Homo sapiens: one gene and its partners. The protein of the gene in region 4 purifies or fractionates together with the protein of the main gene of each other region. This does not show direct contact. Each region holds a gene or a part of one and is shown on either strand. Other genes may lie near its edges.

The links. The genes of interacting proteins can lie anywhere in the genome.
Region 1: the proteins of EDDM3A (region 4) and CD109 purify together in Homo sapiens (affinity purification with mass spectrometry; one large-scale study listed by BioGRID and IntAct). This does not show direct contact.
Region 2: the proteins of EDDM3A (region 4) and CNTNAP3 purify together in Homo sapiens (affinity purification with mass spectrometry; one large-scale study listed by BioGRID and IntAct). This does not show direct contact.
Region 3: the proteins of EDDM3A (region 4) and HS3ST1 purify together in Homo sapiens (affinity purification with mass spectrometry; one large-scale study listed by BioGRID and IntAct). This does not show direct contact.

What each region holds. Positions count from the first base shown.
Region 1 is NC_000006.12:73,764,836-73,769,840, reverse strand, and holds part of CD109 (CD109 antigen isoform 1 preproprotein), read right to left. Parts: intron 3,912-5,005; coding exon 3,687-3,911; intron 3,083-3,686; coding exon 2,981-3,082; intron 2,894-2,980; coding exon 2,831-2,893; intron 1,787-2,830; coding exon 1,610-1,786; intron 1-1,609. UniProt on the Homo sapiens protein: Modulates negatively TGFB1 signaling in keratinocytes.
Region 2 is NC_000009.12:39,063,572-39,069,034, forward strand, and holds the end of CNTNAP3 (contactin-associated protein-like 3 isoform 1 precursor), read right to left. Parts: 3' UTR 1,139-5,463; downstream 1-1,138.
Region 3 is NC_000004.12:11,421,757-11,426,761, forward strand, and holds part of HS3ST1 (heparan sulfate glucosamine 3-O-sulfotransferase 1 precursor), read right to left. Parts: intron 1-5,005. UniProt on the Homo sapiens protein: Sulfotransferase that utilizes 3'-phospho-5'-adenylyl sulfate (PAPS) to catalyze the transfer of a sulfo group to position 3 of glucosamine residues in heparan. Catalyzes the rate limiting step in the biosynthesis of heparan sulfate (HSact).
Region 4 is NC_000014.9:20,743,841-20,749,623, reverse strand, and holds EDDM3A (epididymal secretory protein E3-alpha precursor), read right to left. Parts: upstream 3,738-5,783; 5' UTR 3,632-3,737; intron 2,070-3,631; 5' UTR 2,044-2,069; coding exon 1,600-2,043; 3' UTR 1,244-1,599; downstream 1-1,243. UniProt on the Homo sapiens protein: Possible function in sperm maturation.

The sequences.
Region 1 (5,005 bases), on a different chromosome or scaffold from region 4:
CTACACACTAAAGCATGGGGGAGAGGGAGCAGCATGTTCAAGACTCAGTCTTAGACCTTGTACTTCTCACTCTATACTCTGTACCTCAGAGCCCCATGGCTTCAACTTGCACTTCTGTGTGGATGATTTCTAAACCTAAATCTCTTGCCGCTCCTACAGCTCATTTATTTATTCCATAGTCATTACTGAACATTAATAAACATTCACTAACTTTCTCTTGCTTAGACATATTCCATTTCTAATTATGTTGTTTCTTTATAAATGTGATGATTATCACATAAAAATAAGAGAAAGATATATAGTTGCAAATGGAACTGAAACTAATTCCTTTCTCTTATAGCTAAGAAATTACTTGAAAGTATGCTATTCATATACTCTGCTTCCTCAAAGTCCGTGATCTTTTACACTGTAACCAGCTTTAGAACCTGGTCTTGCTTTCTGAGATGTTTAAGCCTCCATAACTTCTACTTTAAAATTCACCTTTGTCAGGCAATTACTAGGATCACTAGAAGTCAAAAATTGTGCTCTACCACTAACAAAACACAGTGTTATCTTTTTAAGAACTCTTTTCATAAGCTAAAAAAATAGAAGTTTGTATTATATTTTAACAATCAAAGTGAGAGTAATAATTCTCAACAAAACTAAAGTACAGGCCTGGCGCAGTGGCTCATGTCTGTAATCCCGGCACCTTGAGAGGCTGAGGCAGGTGGATCTCCTGAGCCCAGGAGTTAGAGACCAACCTGAGCAACATGGCAAAACCCTCTCTCTACCGAAAATACAAAAATTAGCCAGTCTTATAACCTAGTCTCAAAAAATAAATAAATACAAATTTTAAAAAAGAAAGTACAGATCACTACTGTTACTTCTCAAATATTTTAACAAATAAAGGAAAAAGAAATAGAAGAACCATACTCTGCAAATCACTATTTAAAGGAATAATTTTTTACATAAGAGGATGGAGAGGGCAGCAGTTGTTAGTGACAGCAATGGCTCATTCTTATATACATGAGATGATGCAATCAGGTTTCTTTTCAGAGCTGGGGTCCAAAGGGATTTCCTACTCAAGCTGGTCACATTAGGCTATAAAAGGCACTGGTGCACTTGGAGACCAGACTCCACACAGATCCTCACATGCAGGGTAATCAAGCTCATTGAAAAGTTGCCCTGGGCTAGTTTCCAGCTAATTAAATAGATTAATGAAAGCCCAGCTCTGCTTCTACGTATTATCCTAGATGGCCTCACTCCTTCCCACACCCTTTATATCACTGCAATATCAACACCACACGAATTCTATGTTACCACTGGAATTTCACTCCTGAGCAATATTAATTCAACCATTTGAAAAATTCTGAAACAGCTTCATGATCTGAGTTAAAGTCTTAAAGACCAGAACCATAGTTTACAAATAGACTATCAATCCCCAATAACTCCACAAGTGAAAATATATATGTAATGCTAAATATTGAAAAGTTTAACCATAGTTCTAGAAATAGAATAATATAAATTTCTAACCAGTTTGGCTTAATGATACTTTTCTAAAGAAATATTACATTTCTCAGACTTCACTAATATAAAGTTTTCTTTTAAACATCATTACCTTAAATCTTACCTTATTTTTAAAAACAAGCTGAACAGGAATTTTTAGAACATCACTTATAATTTCCCCATCATCTTCAATATAATACACAATTACACAGGCTTTTGGAGTCCAAGAATTTTCTGGTGTTAAAGAGAACATTGTTGAATTTTGTTTTCCTACAGCCACCAACTGTCCCCTGGATACTACCTGAAAAGAACAGTAGATGGGTTTAATTTATTGCCAAACCTAGTAGGATCTCATCTGAAGCTACATTAATCATAATTGTATGCATACACACAAATTCTTGAATTAAACCAGCTTCAAAGTCTTTTGGAATGCAGGAAAACCTCTCTGACAAACACAGAGAGCATACACTGAGAAAAAGAAAATGGTAAGATTAAAGTAATACTGATTGGAGCAACAGTAGCTTCATAGTCAAGAATCTATTTTTGATTGCAAGGAATACAGGGCACCATTGGGAAAGCTGAATTAGCAAAATTACATGGTCATGGATAGCACTTTTTATTTTCTTTTTCATTTTTCTTACATTGTATAATTTTCTATAATGAATATATATTGCTTATCAAATAGAAATTTAAATTTTAAACATAAAACAAGGTTTAGTTATCTATTTTAAATTGGAAATGCAAACATAGGTGAAGAAATAAAAAAGGTTTTTTATTTGATTGCAATGTTAAAACGACAGGCTAAAAAGGTATGAGGCTGAGTTATAAAAATTAATAAGTTTAGTGTAGATATAAGGTAGACACCATTTAAGATGATTCTCAACCTAAATGCCCATCAAAGGTGGACTGGATAAAGAAAACGTGGTGCACATATACTACGGAATACTATGCAGCTATAAAAAAGAATAAAATCATGTCCTTTGCAGGAAGATGGATGGAGCTGGAGGCCACTATCCTTAGCAAACTAATGCAGGAACAGAAAACCAAATACCACATATTCTCACTTATAAGTGCACACTAAATGATGAGAACACATGGACACATAGAGGGGAACAACCGACACTGGGTCCTATGGGAGGGTGGAGGGTAGGAGGAGGGAGAGGATCAGGAAAAATAACTAATGGGTACTAGGATTAATACCTGGGTGATGAAATAATCTGTACAACAAACCCCCATGACATGAGTTTAGCTATATAACAAACCTGCACATGTACCCCAGAACTTAAAAGTGAATAAAAAGATGATTCTATAATAGATCATAAATTTAGATTCTATAAGAGATTACCATATAGCTTAACTCCTTCAATCGTTTGTTGCCACTAACCACCAACTCAAAAGGCGATCCCACCTAGAAAAAAACCTTAATTAATATGTACATATCAAAAGCAAGATAGTCCAATTATATTGTAATTCTCAAGTGAATTGTAAGCATTACCTTTATATTTTCATCTCTTGTTTTTAGTTGGATGTATGTCTTACTAGGAGACTTAAACAGACTATGAACTGCCATGCTACTTTTACTACCAAGGAAATAGGCCTATAATAAAAGAAAAAGGAGCTGTAAATGTTCATCTTTAGTAACACCTTGAGAAAAGATGTTACCTGCTGAACAATTATTAAAGACCAAATTCATCTTCACTTTTTTTTAATGCAAGAAAAATACATTCACCAGACATTGGATTTTCATCATTTTATAGCTTATACTGTAAAGAAACTGATAGCTTTAAAACACAGGAAAGGAATATATATATATATATATACACACACACATATACATATACATATATATGTGTGTATATATATATATGTATATATATTTATCTTTCATTTCAATTCCTGCCAAAATAAAATTTCAAATGACTGACCTCAAACACTAGACTGGGGATTTGAGGAAATTCTCCATCATATCTTCACATTGCTATATTTTACTGTGCTCTTCAAAATGAACTTACAAGGAAAAATTTAGTCTAACCTTCAGCCACTGTCATTAAATTACTTTTACCACTCTCCTCCATTTTGTGAAACAGAAACATGTGTCCACTTCCTATGTACTTTCAGTTCTGACAGGTTGAGTGCCTACCACAAGATTACAACTGTAATGGTGTTGTTGCAGTGACACAATGATGGGAAACAGACGGCACCTTCAACTGTAGCTCACTGGAATCCTCCAGGATTGGGAATTCAATCTTAAAAGTTCCACTTTGGGGGACAGTATAATTTATTTTCTGAACAGCTTCCATTTTCTGATTTCCACTGTTAGATCCGCTCCAGTACTCAGTATAGTTTCTCTGTGTCACTGTTATGACTACATTATTTCTTCTTTCTTCAAGAGTCAGTTGGTTGCCATCAGCACGAGTTACCTTCACCTAATGGTCAAAACAAAACATCTTAAAAACACAAAGGATTTAAGTACGATTAAATACAGTTTCCGTCTGTAGTATTCTCATGAAATTGAACTCTCAAAAATTATTGGTAGCACTATAATATCCAGATTCAGTGGCCTCTCTCTAGGAGGCATCCAACATCACTGATTACTCCCTTGTTAATATTATGGATTCCCTTAACTTCCGCGGCTCCAAAATAACCCCCTTCACTTCCTACCTCTCTTTCTGCATCCTCTCAGTGTCCTTTTCAGTTCCTCTTTCCTCTCCCTAAATGTGGGAATTTTGGACATCTGTTCTTCTCCCTTCCTCCAAGGTCTCAGCAATCCTATTGCTTAGCTTGTCATCTCTGTGATTGTACCCTAAAGCCAAAATTCCCATCCTTGCCCTTCTCTGGAGTTCATGCCCAACACCTCCAGTTACCTGCAGGAAATTTCTACTTGGATATCCTGGACACCTTGAATTCACATATCTAAAATGAGCAACCATGTCATTTTCCTATTTTCGCTAACATCAGGATTTTGCAAGACTTTACATTTCTGAATTTTCCCTCCCTCTCCCCACCCCCCAAATCCAATGAACACCAAAGTCCTATGCTTCTCTCTTCCATCCTCTCCACTCCCACAGCTACCACCACAAGGCTGCCCATCCCCTCACTCCTGGGCTACAGCCATCCTCCTGCACACAGCCTGAGCAGTCTCCCTCAAACACTACCTGAGTGCACCCCGAAATTGCCAGCCAGACCTCTCCTTCTTGTCTCACTTCTTATCTTGCTCCCCACCTCCCACTCCCATGCCCAAGCATTTAAAACACAACTAATCTTTTAAAAAACAGTTTAGACCATCCTCTTCCATAAAGCATCCCATAGTAACCCCCATGCCTATCCCACAGCCAACTCTCCCCCTCTGAACGCCCATGGTTTCACTCTACTCATTCAGAAATTACCATTTGCAGCCTCAATTTTTTAAACTGACCTTTTCAAACTGCCTAAATTAAGATCATTGAAATCAGAAACTACCTGAAACGTCTACCGACCCATTCAACAAGTGACCCCTCCATTCTTTCTTTGTCGTTTTAGT
Region 2 (5,463 bases), on a different chromosome or scaffold from region 4:
TCCTTGGAAAATTACAAGTGGTGAAGATTAATACATGTGCTATTATTGTTGTTTTTCATTAACTGTTTGCTATGGAATCATTGAAGAAAGTGATAGACATGTTAGAAAGACAGATTTCTTTAGAGTGGTATATACTCATATTTCTTTAGGGTGGGCAAATTAAAATCACTGATCTGATTGTGGCATATATAACTACGGTCTTGCATCCTTTTGGCCTGAAATATTCTCCTTCTAACTGAGAAGTATGTGAAGAGAGAAAGCATTCATTGCATATTCATCTGAGCAGCTTTCTAGAACTGATCCAGTCAGACTAGAAAAATTCTACCAAGCTCAAAAATCATCACACAAAAAACAACCACTTAGAGTCTCTGGAAACTGTCCTAACAGAAAATGTTTTTGAAATGGCATTATATTCTGTTGGACCTAATTAAATCCTTTTCTCTCTTCGCATAGTAAGGACCCATAGTCCCTCCCTGGTGACACTTCCTACTTCAGCTTTCCCTTGTTCTCAGTTTTAGGTGCACCCTACCTCAAGTTCTTACTGCTTCTGCTCGTGGGACTATAACAAACACTACTTCTTTTACCTCAGTAGGACATCACAGCCCATTGCTTCCATGCATCCCAGGAGCTGGGAGAGACTTGGGCCTCTTCTGTCTGCTATTTTTTTTTTTAATATTGCTAATCTCAGGCTATGGTCTGAGAATCAAACAGCAAACATTTTTGCACTTCTATTTTCTAATAAACTATCTGGATTCCTCCTAAAAGTTGGAACTGAGGTAGAGTTGACATCTAATTTCACAGCCATGTTGATACAAATGAAGCAAATCTTTACAATATTTCAATATGTATAATTCCAAGGCACAATGAGCAAGGTATAGGAGTATGTCCCCTGTGTCTAGCTGTTTCTCCAGGCTTCTCCAGAATGATGGATGAAAATGTAATTGGCAAGTCAAATGTCTACTGTGGAAGCCTACAGGAAAAGGGATGTGAAATGCTTGACGTGATGAGGGATGCAGAGTGTTCAGCACTTATTTACTGAGCAGCTCATCACCTGATTGTATAGTATACAATATATGAGAATTTATAGAACAGTGAACATGTAAACACATAGAACAAATAAACATATACAACATATAAACACTGTTTTTAACATTTATTACATACATAGAACATATAAGAATTTATAGAGCAATGAAAATACCACATTTTGACATTTGTATTGTACTGTGAAAGATTTATATGTATTTGTATAAAAAATAAATAAAGGTGATAATCTCTTGTGATTTCCCCAAAATACAGCATCCTTTTCATCTTTTTCCATTATGTAAATATGGTATGATAGAAATATAATATGCTGTGAAGTGATAGACATCATGACATATCAAAATGTATTATATATACACATATATATACATGTACATATTTATTGAAGTATAATTTATATACAAAATATACAAATTCCAAATATGAAATTCAGAGTTTTGACAAATGTCCACACCAATGTAACCATAGTCAATCAAGACATAGAACATTTCCATCACTCCAGAAACTTCCCTTGTGTTTCTCTGCAGTCAACTCCCATCCCACCTCAACCCAGGTAACTACTGATACAATTTCTACTGCTATATCTTAGTTTCGCTTGTTCTAGGACTTCAGAATGTACCCTATAGTGTCTAGATTTATTCATTCAACACAAGGTTTTTTAGATTCAGCCATGTTTGTTGCAGTTACCAGTAGTTTTGTCCATTTTATAGCTGAAGAGTATTTCATTATTAATACAACACAAATTGTTTGTCCATTTTCTTGTTGAAGGTCTTTTAGGCAGTTTACAGTTTGGGGATATTATAAGTAAAGATGCTATAAACGTTCTTGTGTAAGTCTTATAATGGGCATAAGTTTTCATTTCTTTTCAATCTAGGATTGGAATTGTTGGGTCATAGGTTTCATGTATGCTTAATTATATAAAACAATGTTAAACAATTTTTCCTAAGTGGTTGTAGCATTTTACATTCCAACAATAATGTATGAGAATTATAATTGCTCCATATTCTCAACAACACGTGGTACTGACAATATTTTTAATCATAACCATTTTAGTGGGAAGAATAACTCACTGTGGTTTTAATTTGCATTTCCTTAATGACAAAACGATATTGAACATTTTTGTGTGCTTTTTGTCCACTGGCCTAGCACTTTTCGTCATTTTTTCTTATATTCATTATTTTCATTTTATTTTTGCTAATTATTGAGTTGTTAAGAGTTCTTTATGAACTATATTCTGAAAAAAATTTACAGCATTCAAATAAAGTGTTGCAAATATTTTCTCCCAGTCTGTAGCTTGACTCTTATTCTCTTAACAATGTATTTTAAAAGGAGAGTTGTTAATCTTAAGGTCAAATTTATCAGATTTTTATTTTATATCTTGCTATTTGCTTTCTATTTGTCCCATTTGTTCTTTGTCCTCTTTCTCATCTTTTTTGTCTACTTTCAAGCATTTAAAAATTTATTCTATTTCATCGCTGCATTGTAATATTATTGTGTAATATTGTAATATTATCACTGTTTTTGTTACTCTAGCATTTGCTTTAGGGATTACACCATACAGATGTTTTAACTTAAAGATAACTTGTAATAGCCAACTTTTAATAGGCATTATACGACTTTACACACAGTCTAAGAACCTTACAAACTAAACTATATTTCCATTTACTCTAGGTTATTGTTGTCATATATTTTACTTTTACTCATGCTGCAGAACTCACATGACACTGCTATTATTTCTAAACAGCCAATTATCTTTAAAAGATATTTAAGTAATAAGGGCAGGTATTGTATATTTACTTATGGTGTTACTATTGCCAGTGCTCTTCATTTCTTTGTGTGGATCCATGTTTCTATCTGCACAAAGATATTATTCTTTATTTTCCTTCTTCCTGAAAGGCTTTTACACTGTTCTCATAGTCCAGGTTTGCTGATAATATATTACTTTTAACTTTTCTATGTCTGAAAAATATCTTTGTTTCATCCTTTCTTGAAAGACGGTTTTGCTGGGTATAGAAACCTAGGAGAGAGAGTTTTCTGCTTTTGGTTGGAAGATGTTTCACTGGAAGCATGAAAGATGTTGCTCCACTGCCCTTCCCCTTGCATTGCTTCCAAAAAGAAGTCTGGTATCATCCTTGTTTTTCTTCTCTGTGTAAGACTTGTCTTTTTCTCTTTACCACACTGAGTTTTGATCCATTTGCTTATGATGTGTTGTGATGTGGTTTTCTTAATAGCACCCCTACTTGGGGATGTTGAGCTGGGTCTGTGGGTTTATAGTTTGCATCAAATGTGGAAAATGCTTATGTATTAATTTTTAAAAATATTTTTTTCTATCCATCCACTCTCTTTTCTCCTTTGAGAACTCCAAATACACACAGATTAGGCAACTGAAGTTGTCCCACAGATCACCGATACTCTGATTATTCTTTGTTTTTTTTCTGTCTCTGTTTCATTTTGGATGCTTTCTACTGCTATATATATTCAAGTTTATTAATATTTTCTTCTGAAAACTCTCATCTGCCATTAATTACATCCATTGTATTTTTTAATCTTATACATTAACATTGTCATCTCTCGAAGTTTAATTAAAGCCTTTTCTTGTCACATCCTAATCTTTGAAAATACGGAATATAGTCATAATATTTTTCATTAGTAATTCTAACATCTGGGTATGTGCTGGGTCATTTTAGATTGATTTTTATCCTCATTATAGGTCCTATTTTTCTGCCTCTTCACACACTTGGTAATTTTTTATTGTATACCAGACATTGTGATTTTACCTCGTTGGGTGTTGGATTTTTTTTTGATGGAGTCTGGCTCTGTTGCCCAGGCTGGAGTGCAATGGCGCAATCTCGGCCCACTGCAAACTCTGCCTCCCGGGTTCATGCCATTCTCCTGCCCCAGCCTCCCGAGTAGCTGGGACTTCAGGCGCCCAACACCACGCCCGGCTAATTTTTGTATGTTTAGTAGAGACGGGGTTTCCACCTTGTTAGCAGGATGGTCTCCATCTCCCGACCTCGTGATCTGCCTGCCTCGACCTCCCAAAGTGCTGGGATTACAGGCATGAGCCACTGTGCCCGGCCTGGTGTTGGATAGTTTTATGTTACTGGAAATACATGTGAACTTTGCTCAGAGATGCCAATTAGTTATTGGAAACGGTTTGATCTTTTTTTCCAAATCTTTGAAGATTTGTTCAGTGGGGCCGCCATAGTAATACATGGTCTAGGACTTGCCAGGACTGAGGCAAGACCCCTATGAATATTCTACCTAATGCCCTATTAATTATGGGGATTTCTGGTATAGCCCATGGCAACCACCTCTATTCATGGTTGTATGTGAACATGCACTCTCAGTGAGAGTAATATTGTCCCCAAAACGACAGAAATTAGTTTTTTTGGGGGGGATGGGAGAAGTGAAGAGAAGAAAAATATTCTTTTTGTGTAAAGCCCAGATATACGTATAGTACTAAAGAGATATGCAGTGCATGTGCGATATTAAAATTTCAGGGCGGGCGCAGTGGCTTACGCCTGTGATACCAGCGCTTTAGGAGGCTGAGGTGGGCAGATCATGAGATCCAGAGATCGAGACCATCCTGGCTAACACGGTGAAACCTTGCCTCCACTAAAAATACAAAAAAAAAAAAAAAAAAAAAAATTAGCTGGGCATGTTGGCTTGTGCCTGTAGTCCCAGCTACTCGGGAGGCTGAGGCAGGAGAATGGCATGAACCCTGGAGGCGGAGCTTGCAGTGAGCCAGGATCGCGCCACTGCACTCCAGCCTGAGCGACAGAGCAAGACTCCGTCTCAAAAATAAAATAAAATTAAATTAAATTAAATAAAAATTAAAAAATTCATAGAGAGGTGACTAGAAAAGATGTTTAAAAAGATTCCTTGAGGTCAATAATAATTTTTTAAAGGTTGATAAATGCCGCTGTAATTCTTTTGAGTGTTTCTTTCCCTTGCCTCAGGTAGTTTCATGCACTTTGTTACACACTGAAGGGCGACCCTCTCCAGATTTGCAAAGTTTTCTCCAATGCAGCTCTTTCCTCGCCGGTACTCTATCCTGCAATCTCTAGCCACCTTCGTGTACCTGAACTCTCAGCAACAGCTACTCCATTCAGAGACTTGCTAGGCTTCCTTAAGCTATCTATCTCCATTGTCACTGCTGTCTCAAATTCTCTCAAGTTGTAAGCTGGGATACTCACAGCACACATCTTATGTTTCCTGTCTTTCAGGGATTACATTCCGTGCCTCATGTCCAGTGTACTGAAAACCATAGTTTCATATATTTTGTCTGGTTTGAGGTTGTTTCATGCAGGAGGGTTAGAGGGTAAATATGCTCCCTATTACTCCATCTTAGCCAGAAGTAAAATAAGAAAAAGAAATATATGTAAGTATAAACACACATACACATATATATATGTA
Region 3 (5,005 bases), on a different chromosome or scaffold from region 4:
AAATGTGGACTACTCAGTTCTCCAGGGATTTAACAAATCTCCACCTTGAGCCTACTGCTCACAGCAGGTAGAGAATTTTGTCCCTGGATCCGGAGTCTGCCACCTTTACTCTGGGCATCTCTAAGAAAAGTTTCTTCACTTCTGGACCTCAGTTTCCTTAAATAGCAAATGAAGATGGTGAGAGCTCCCCTGCAGTCCTCGCAGGACTGGGTACGAGAGATAAAGGAGGCAGTGGGTATTGTCACATTATGTGAAAGTAAGGAATTATCTACTACATTCTTTTCATGCCAGAGTGCTTTTGCACAAGCAGACCAGGATCTATTCAGCAAAGCGCTTGTATTAATATGCCAGTTATTCAGCTGGACTGACCGTATTGGGAATCCCTAAAATAGACAAATGAGTTTTCAACAAAGGTTTGAGGGCTATGCAATTTTGACTACGTCTTATCATTCTTCTTTGGCTGTTCTCACCACATCTCTTTTCTTAAATATTTCTTCCACCATGAACCGCTTCCTAACTCCCCCAGACAGAAATGCCGCCTGTTTCTTCTTTTCTGAGCAATACACTGTTCTAGAAACTGGAGCAAACAGACACTGCCCCTGCTCTCCTGGAGCACATATTCTGGTGGGAGAGTGTGAGAAAGTAAGCAAATAAGCCAATCCAGTAACAAGGTGACTCCAGATAAACATACTTGCTACCTAATTATGTTACTGAAGAAATTATTACCATGAAAGAAAGAAGGTGATGAAAGGGAAATATTCTTGGGATGGTCCATCTCATGAGACAGGCAGAGACTCGGTTATTTATCTGACTCCCATACTAAACTGTAAATTCATCAATGACAAGAACTATTTCTTAATATCCTGCACAACTGCCTTGTGAACGACAATCAATAGCAAAGGTAGGGGCAGATTTGGGAGAAGGTGTACCAGAGTCTCCAAGGGCACAAGCACACTTTACACTTGGAACACATTTTTTAAAAATAAATACTTTTAATAATGCAAAATGAAATTTTATAATAAAAATGTCATTGCCAGATAAAGAAATTAAAGCCTCAAAAAAATTTCCGTGGACGATGGGAGCAGGCTTAAAGTAAGTTAATAAGCACAGATGTAAACTGTTCCTGGAACAAAACAAATGATCAAGTTAAAAGGTGCTCAGGAGGCTGAGATAGGAGAATCCCTTGAACCCAGGAGGCAGAGGTTGCAGTGAGCTGGGATCACGCCACTGCACTCCAGCCAGGGCAACAAGAGCGAGACACCGTCAAAAAAAAAAAAAAAAAAAAAAAAAAAAGTGCTGAACGTCAGAGTTCTGAGTATGAAAACTCAACAATTAAGGCATCCTTACCACAGTCCTCAATCACTGTAGTTGCCTAATCATTTGAGATCATGTTTAATGTATTTCATGCTGGTCTATAATTTCCTTGCAGAGTAGTCCTTGACTGGTTTTGTTCATCAATGTACTCTAACACGTAATGCAATGCCGGGTACATGGCAGACAATAAACGTGCTCAATAGTCAGTTTTATTAAAATTGAGAGTATAGCTCAATATCCAAAACTACCCAATGGATGATAGACCCAGGATACAATCAAACTCCCACATAGAAAATATTTTATGTTGGATAATGAAATTTAACTTTGGGTTATGTTGAGCCAGAGACTGAACTGCAGGCTCCCTGGCTAACAGCCTAAGGTTTCTCCCCAGTATCCTGATATTTCCTATCACTTTCCTCTAGTTTTTATTTTTTAATCCTTAGCACATCACTATCTAACTAGGAGAGATTCTGCTTATCTGTCTTGTGTTTTGTCTGTCTCCTCTGCTGGAAGATAAGCACAAGGGCGAGGACTTCCATCTGTTTTGTTCCCTACTGTGTCACCGGTGAGCAGAACAATATGCGGTACATGGCTGGAACTCAATAAACGTGTTAAAGGAGTAAACATGATTGCTGTAACCACTTGCAGAGATAGGAAGAAGGAACATCCCGAACAGAGGTTCACTCTGTAAACAGTAACTAACTAGAGCACTGTCTGTGCTCCATGTCCCTACACTCTTGCCTCGATATTCTGAACAACATGCCCTCCTGAATTTCATATTCCAAATTTCCCTCATATCCCTGGAAACCAGAGGCCATACATTGGAGGCCTGTGTGACAGATATAAGGCTTACACACAGAAATGTTTGGTTTGGCCCACATGGTGTTATTTAGGAATATCGAATTAGCTGCTGGCACTTGAAAGTGAGTAGATTTTACATAAAACTGTGAATTGACAGTCTATCTTGAAAAAAAAAAAAAAAAAAAAACATAACCAGGTCTGGCAAGACCAGACCTGAAGTCCCGCCTGCAGCCCCTGTGCTGGATCTGGGCTACAACCCCCACTTACCCAGGCACAGGGCCCAAGTCCTGTTCCACTCAAGCTGTTACTTGCCTGGCTGCTGAAGACATTAGAGTTTGCGACCCCTGCTGGAAAACTACCAAAAAGCATAATGTATTAGAGAAAAAGAAAGATGCCCACTGGGATCTATTTCTGTTATGTTTAGAGTATTGCTTGGAAGAATAATGTATTCATTTTTCTAGACCTCTTGTAGTAGCACATAACTATTGACAAACTACGGCCCAGTAGATATTATTCTAACGATCTGAAAAAGCTACAGACTTCATTCCCCATGGGTAGAGGAAGCTAAGGATGTTTCATGCTGGAGACAGGCCTGAAGATGAATGGGGAGAAGCTGTACATCAGTGGGTTGCAATTCTGGCTAAGTCAGGGAGAAAGGGAATTCACTTGAAGACTATGGGTTGCCTCTAGGAATTGCTGAGAAGCTGAAAAGCCAGGATTGGAAAATGAGAAGGAATGAAAGGAACCTGGGCACCAGAGGCACATCAAGATGGTGTTGCAGAAAAGGCACCTCTGGGACCACAGCTTGGGACATGCATACTGCTGCCAACGCCACTTGATCCATGATCCAAGGTGGTAAATAAACACTCCAATGTCCCTGTGCCCTTTAGCTAGTCTTTCAAGATTCCAGGCCCCAGGTGGGATCATTCAACTAAGCCCTAGTTCAGGGCTGGGAGATATGGACAAGGAGAAAGAGGCCCATCTCCCACAAAAAAAAAAAAAAATCCTTCTATGAAGGGAAGGTTGTGTTCCCTAAATAGGATGTTTGGTTCCAACTGCTTAGAAGGGTTTTAAGTGAGTCTGAAGAGAGAGGGCACTACAAGCACGACTGTAGAGTGGAATAAGAACAGACAGGCCTGAATTCTAGTCTGGAATCCTTTGTACCTTTAGAAAATTAATTAAGTTTTCCGATCGGCAGATTCCAAATCCTTAAAATAGAAATGACGCCATCTGCTCTCCAAGGTTGCTGTGAAGATTCAGTCCAATCACTCATTCAATTATTCCAAATATACTTATTGAATGTCTAAGTGCCAGGCAGGCACTGAGTTAGGTTCTGGAGACACGTTTGGAACAACACCTAAAATGCAATGATGAGGAGCCAGTGCATTATGCTGATGAAAGATTCAGACAAGGGGGACCCGGGTCATCTCGTGACACTGGTCATGTTTTACTTTTCCCCAGTGGAGTCACTCCCCATTTGTGACTTTTCTCCTTTTTTAAAAAAATTATTAATTAACATCAGGGCCCTCTCTTCAAACAGATTTTCTTAAGACATGTAATGTGTATTATGTTAAAAGGAAAAACACTCTAAAAATTGACTGTGATCCTGAAAACAAGAAAGGAATCATTCTGAGAAGTAGTGAGGCCCGGTGCTTGTAGCATTCAGGTGGAGTGATCACAAGAAGAGACTGGCCAATTAAAAGAAATCTCTCCCACTTAATGTTTAGCATATGTCATTTACTCAGACATATGCAAACTATGATTAAAATGAACATTAAAATAGATCTACGATAAAACTTAATTTTTTGTATTTTTTACCCTTTACAATTGCACAAGTGTTCTCCAATCGGCAAGATGCATTTCATATACATTTTCTCACTTTCTTATAATAATCTTTTCATCACTGTTTTGCAGAGGAAGAAATTTAGGGTCAGGGAGGGAGAAATTGTTGCCCAAGGTCATGGGGCAAGAAGTTGGCTTTAAATCCAGCTAGCACTCTCCTGCCTTCTGCCATAAGAAAAGAGCAGCCTCAATTGAAAGCACCAGGTCAAGTAGCCAGGTTGAGGGGAAAAAAACTGGGAATAGCCCTGATATTTTCCAGCACTAGCTGGAAAGTTACTGCATTTCCCTGGAAGCTGCTAAAAAGTTACCACTCTCCTGCAACAACTGTCTCTAACACAGGGACCCAGGCTTAGATGCAGGCCCGGAAACCTGGTGCCTGAGCACTGACCCAGCCTACAGGCTCAATTTCATCAGGACACCAGATACATCTTACTGTGCCTTCCTCCAAACTTTAGCCCCCATAGACAGACATGATTTAGCAACCACGGTGGGGATATGCCATTGTGGGTAGCTGCTATGTTCTCAGAAAGGCAGTGTGCATGAGTGAAGCAATTTACACCACCCAGGCCATCTTTCTAGCCCCTTCCTAGTCACCATCGAGTTTCAATTCAAGGCAAGAGAAGCTTCCATGTGGCTTTTCCCTTCAGAGGCCCCCCCCCCAACCCTCACAAGATTTTTCCAGTAAAATAATTTCTTATTTTAATAAGAAAAGTACATGCTCCAACTTTTAGGGGGACCCAGGGGGGGGGCTTGAGGCTTCATTCTAGACATAACCACAGGAAAGTAAAGAACCCTTTGCTTTTTCCGATGCCATCTCAAGATGCCAATTTCTCACCAGCTTCTCAGAACAAAAATCTCCTATCTTAAAACTACAGAGCATTGTATACCCTGTGGCATCACAGAGGATCCACAGTCTAGAAGCACAGCTTAATAAGCCTCACTAAGGAATCTTCATCTATGCTGCTGTTGTAATTAACTGCTTCCACTTAAGAGTGCTTAGTCATGAAGTTGTCCATCCCTGTCAAACTCAGCTGAAAGAGTTAGATGG
Region 4 (5,783 bases):
GAAGACTCATCCCCTCTCAACTGCTGATGTTCATTATGGATTAACTCCCCTCTTCCCTTTCTCATGCAAAGACTTCATCGCTTTCACATTGTCTTTTTGTTTTGTTGTTGTTGTTTTGTTTTTGTTTGTTTGTTTTCACGACAGGGTCTGGCTTTGTCACCCAGGCTGGAGTGCAGTGGCACAATCTCGGCTCACTGCAACCTCTGCCTTCTGGGCTCAAGCCATCCTCCCACCTCAGCCTCCTCAGTAGCTGGGACTATAGGCACATGCCACCATGCCTGGCTAATTTTTGTTTTTCTTTTGTAGAGACAGGGTTTTGCCATGTTGCCCAGGCTGGTCTCAAACTCCTGAGCTCAAGCGATCCAACCATCTCAGCCTCTGGGCTTTCACACTGTCTTAAGATGGAAAGTTAAACACACTTTTTAGAGTTGGAGAGAATTGAAAAACAACTATAAATAGAACAAGTCATGTGGTGGGGGGACAAAAGTGTAACCAATTAATTTGTTGTAACTCTTGAACCAGTCTGGTATAGAAAATGTAATCCTTTCTCACTTCTTTCTCTTTTTCCTACATAAAAAAGAACTTAACTTTTAACTTTGGAGTACTGACCCCATTTCTCTGGAATCTGTGTGCCACAGAATGTCCATTCCCAGCCTTTCACTTTAGTAAACTCTTTTTTTTTTTTTTTTTTTGAGATGGAGACGGAGTCTTGCTCTGTCATCCAGGCTGGAGTGCAGTGGCGTGATCTCGGCTCACTGCAACTTCTGCCTCCCAGGTTCAGGAGATTCTCCTGCCTCAGCCTCCCATAGCTAGAACTACAGGTATGTGCCACCAAGCCTGGCAAATTTTTGTACTTTTAGTAGAGACAGGGCCTTACCATGTTGGCCAGGCTGGTCTCAAACTCCTGACCTCAGGTGACCCACCTGTTTCAGCCTCCCAAAGTGCTGAAATTATGGGCATGAGTCACAGTGCCCAGCCCACTCCTTAAAACTGGATTTTGACCCTTTTGATTATTTCAAATTGCTACCACGATGAGTGCTTACATCACTACTTGTCTCCAGTTTAGCACACAATCATTTATATCCACATGATATACATAAACATATCACATACATTAGACACAGACACATAAAGTGCACATTAAACCCCTTGCACAGCCATAGGCAAAAATAGCCTAGATCACCGATACCCATACCAATCACACGATACATACTCTGCACACATAACATATATAAGCGTCACATACGTTAGAATAATATATTTTATTTAAGAAAAGGAGGGTCGTTCAGCTTGGGTAGGTATAAAGAGAGTCAATATCAGGAAAGTCTTAGGTTAGTCGAGGACAGATGCCATATGAGCTGAATCTTGGAAAAAATGTGGGTGTAAATTAGGCAAATTAGGACAAAATTGTATTACAGATACAGAAACCACACAAAGATTTGGTATCAAGAAATCACGAGGTACATAAACTCTAAGTAGTTGGAAAACACTGACACATAAATGTAAGCGGGGAGTGGCAGGGGCTATTGATGGAGGCAGGGCCCACCACTTTGGAAGCACTGAATACTCTACCAATATCTGAGGATGTGCATAGACTTTCTAGTTGCTGATAGGTTCTATAATCCTCAGGTCTTCTATGTTATCAACATATCCATCTACGCCACAATGGAATTCAATGTAGCTGAAGCTTCTGCTCTCTGTGTACCTATTGTTGTACTTCTCCCAGTGACACTCGAGTACTTTGAGGGCACCTGGGGCCCATACATATGCATTTCTATATCGGTCGCTCCCCTTCTCATTGATGCATGCACGCTGAATTTTGAACCATAAGCTATAGATGAACATATGAAAGCTCTTGCCTTTCAGAGCCTCTTTTTCTCTCATGAGGACATCACATTTGTACTCTTTGAATTCTCGACTTGGACTTAAGTAATGAAGTTTTATGAATTCTCTCCAGTAAATGTTGTTACTGTATACACACAGCCTGCAAAGGATGCAAAGCAGGGCCAAGAGTATGCCCCAAATCTTTAGAGAGGATGTCATCTCAGTCACCACGTCCACCTGCGTGTCTACAGGGAAGAGAAAGAAAAGCATTAACCAGACTATACTCAGAGAGCTGAGCTCCACCTTAAAATTCCTTTCCCTGCCAAGCAGGTACTTGGGCACTATATTGCTATTTGGTTCCATATTAGAAGATGATGATTCTCATTAAAGAATACAGTTTCTGGGCTGGGCACAGTGGCTTATACCCGTAATCCCAGCAGTTTGGGAGGCCAAGGTGGGTGTATCACCTGAGGTCAGGAGTTCGAGAAACACCGTGGCCAACATGGTGAAACCCCATCTCTACTAAAATACAAAAAGTAGCTGGACATGGTGGCTGTAGACCCAGCTACTCGAGAGGCTGAGGCAGGAGAATCGCTTGAACCTGGGAGGCGGAGGTTGCGGTGAGCCGACATCACACCTCTGCACTCCGGCCTGGGTGACAAAAGCAAAACTCCGTCTCAAAAAAAAAAAAAAAAAAGAATACAGTTTCTAAGAACTAAAAATATGCTTTAGCCTGTGAGAGCTAACACAAATTTGGAAAATATAGATAAAGTACCTTTTGAGAATTTCAAATATCTCCTGTCTACCCTGTCTTCTACCCAATTTGAGGAGCCAATCACTATCGAGCTCTCTTTTACCAAATAAGCTCTCAGGAGATCATGTGTCCAATAGAAAAATGACATTTTAAGCGTATTGTCTGCAAAGTGGAAAAGATTGTTGCATTTTAAGGGAATGTAGAAGATGAGTAACTACTTGGGAGGTGGTTCCTAGGCAGAAGGCATTGATTCTGGAAACCACAGCCCAGGCTGCAATTGCACTTCTCTGAAAAATGATGTTTTTCCAACCTTGACTTCCTTATAACACTTTCCCCAAAGTCTGGGTGAAACATGTGATCATTATTAACTATCGGCATCCCTTCTCAGAGGCCATTTCCCTAATTACTGCTATTACAAATGATCTTCATTTGTTAGAGCTTATTGACAATGCCATCATAAAAGGACATCAGTTTAGAACTGTTGCTGTAATCAATCAGGCACCAAAACTAAAACAGTCCCCCGCAGAGCTACTGTGGTCACAGCATAGGATGTATGGTCGTTTGAAAAAGTTATCTCTTTACCAGCTATCTGTCCTCATTTGCCATGAGGAGTATTCCTGGCCCTACTGAACCTCTAGCCTGATTCATAGCTCTGAGTATCGGTGTCCTCAGATAGGCCTAATCACAGCTCCCTACAGACCTGCAAGAGTCTAATGAGATGCAAGCATGTGAGAGCACTTCTAAAGATGTCAAATGCCCACATCAGGCACAGGGTTCCTCATCTGTGGAACCCTGTCCTGGTGATAAAGGCCTACACAAGATAGAAGAGTAGGATGCAAGCAGCTTTAATGCACTGTGCTTAGGAGGACTGGCGGTGAAGGAAGGGAGGGGCAGGGAAAAGCCTGTATCAGTGGGACTGAGGCTAACCAGAATTCAGACCTTTGTTTTCCATGATTTGGATCCTTCTCCATTGTTTGCTATCTAAAAGTTCAATCAGCCTCCTTCCAGTGTTCCTGGCTGTCCCCCGAGCAACCTCAGCAGAGCCCTTCTTACCCTACTTGGACTCTGAGTTCAGGTCACTGATTGTAGTGGGGATCAGCATGTGGATCTGAAGAGCAGAGTCTGCGTCCTCCTCCTTTTCTCAGAGCCCTGGAAATCTACAGCAGTGGAGAAAGGAATAGTAGGGGGAGCTGCAGGGCTCCAGCTGATTGGTAGCCGAGGTGGTGATGGGGAACAGCCTTATTATGTGAACTTGTCCCTGTATCGTTTCATCTGGAACACTTGGGCTCACTCAAACAGTAGCCTCGAGCAAAGGCTACAAACATCAAAGGCTGAGCCCTGGGTACAAAATGATTGCAAGACCCTAGGTGACCCCAGAAAAGGGTTATCTGGTGCTATCAGGAGACAACCAGAGACTTAGCTCTGCTCTCAATTCTAACAAACTTCTGGGGAAGTCCCTGGAGGGTTATGCTATGTTACATGGGAACTTCACTGAGGAAAGCCACCTTTTTTTTTTTTTTGAGATGGAGTCTCGCTCTGTTGCCCAGGCTGGAGTGCAGTGGCGAGATCTCGGCTCACTGCAAGCTCCGCCTCCCGGGTTCACCCCATTCTCTTGCCTCAACCTCCTGAGTAGCTGGGACTATAGGCGCCTGTCACCACGCCCAGCTAATTTTTTGTATTTTTAGTAGAGACGGGGTTTCACCGTGTTAGCCAGGATGGTCTCGATCTCCTGACCTCATGATCTGCCTGCCTCAGCCTCCCAAAGTGCTGGGATTACAGGTGTGACTCGCTGTGCCTGGTCTTTTGCCTTTTTTTTTTTTTTGACAGGGTCTTGCTCTGTCGCCCAGGCTGGAGTGCAGTCGCACAAACACTGCTCCCTGCAGTCTCAACCTGCCAGGCTCAAGCAATCCTCCCACCTCAGCCTCTTGAGTAGCTGGGACTATAGGCATGCAACACCATGCCTGGCTAGTTTTTTGTATTAATTTTTGTAGAGACAGGGTTTCACCATGTTGGCCAGGTTGGTCTTGAACTCCTGAGCCTAGCTAAGCCTCAACACATCAGCCTCTAAAAGTGCTGGGATTACAGGCATGAGCCACTTGGTCAGGCCAGAAAATCACTTTTAATGTTGTGAATTGTGAGACCTTCATTGAGAGGTGAAAGAATATCTAGTGAACACAGTGGCCAAATAGCTATGAATGATTAGGTAGCCAGTATCTGAAATTTCTCTACTCAGTTTTTTAATTATAACCTTTAGCTGTTTGGTGACACTGTACTGCTTACTATTAAAATGTCACATAGCCTGGCCATAGTTTCTACAATGCTACTATACGTAACATCTGACTGTGAAGTATAGGTCACAAGGTGCTGGCTAAGTTGTTTTTCAGGACCTCAAGATTCAGTCCTGAACTCAGCTCAAACTGACAAGACCACAACTTCTTCAACTGAGTTTGTGCAAGTGTTCAATGGTTACCTTTAACATCACAGCCGGAATTTTCCACCATATTTTCCATGCCAACTCCCCACAAATTGGCAAATGTGACCAATACTGGTTCATCAACACTAGTCAAAGTTACGATTTATGAATAAAGTAAGACTCTTGCAAATCTTTTCTAACAACACTTCCAAAGGCTGCTCCTAGCCAAACCACCTTAGTTGATTTTCTCACTGGGCCACCTTATTGTTGGAATGACAGAAGGTTCAGTTTATATCCAGAACTTATCTTCAAACCCCCACTCCTGTGAAGCAGTCCTTGAGTAATAGAAAATCATGTGCTGATAGACTGGATGGACGGGAGATAGTCTTAGAGCAGGTTCTGTGCATCCTTCTACTCTCTAGGTCTTTGGGGGACAGGGGAGAGCAAAACAGGAACAATTCTGGGCCTCTGAATTTGGATGATTTGAGAGGCGATTCTGAGGGAAAATCAGTTTTTTGTCATGTGCCCACACATCCAGAGCTCTTTCCAACAAATGTGCATTGTCTATTGAAGACAAATTCAAGTAGTGACTCAATGAATGTAGAGAGGTGGGAGAGAGAAGCCACCTGAGCCAATGTATGAGCCAGTGTTTCTCAAATACTTGATATTCCACTTTTAATATGGAAAAAAAATCATGGACTCCAAGCATACATCCATGAACTCTCCTATGAGCTAAGCCCAAAGTCCTAAAGCTTTTTGGATATAAACCCAATTAGGAGGCCATCTAAACTA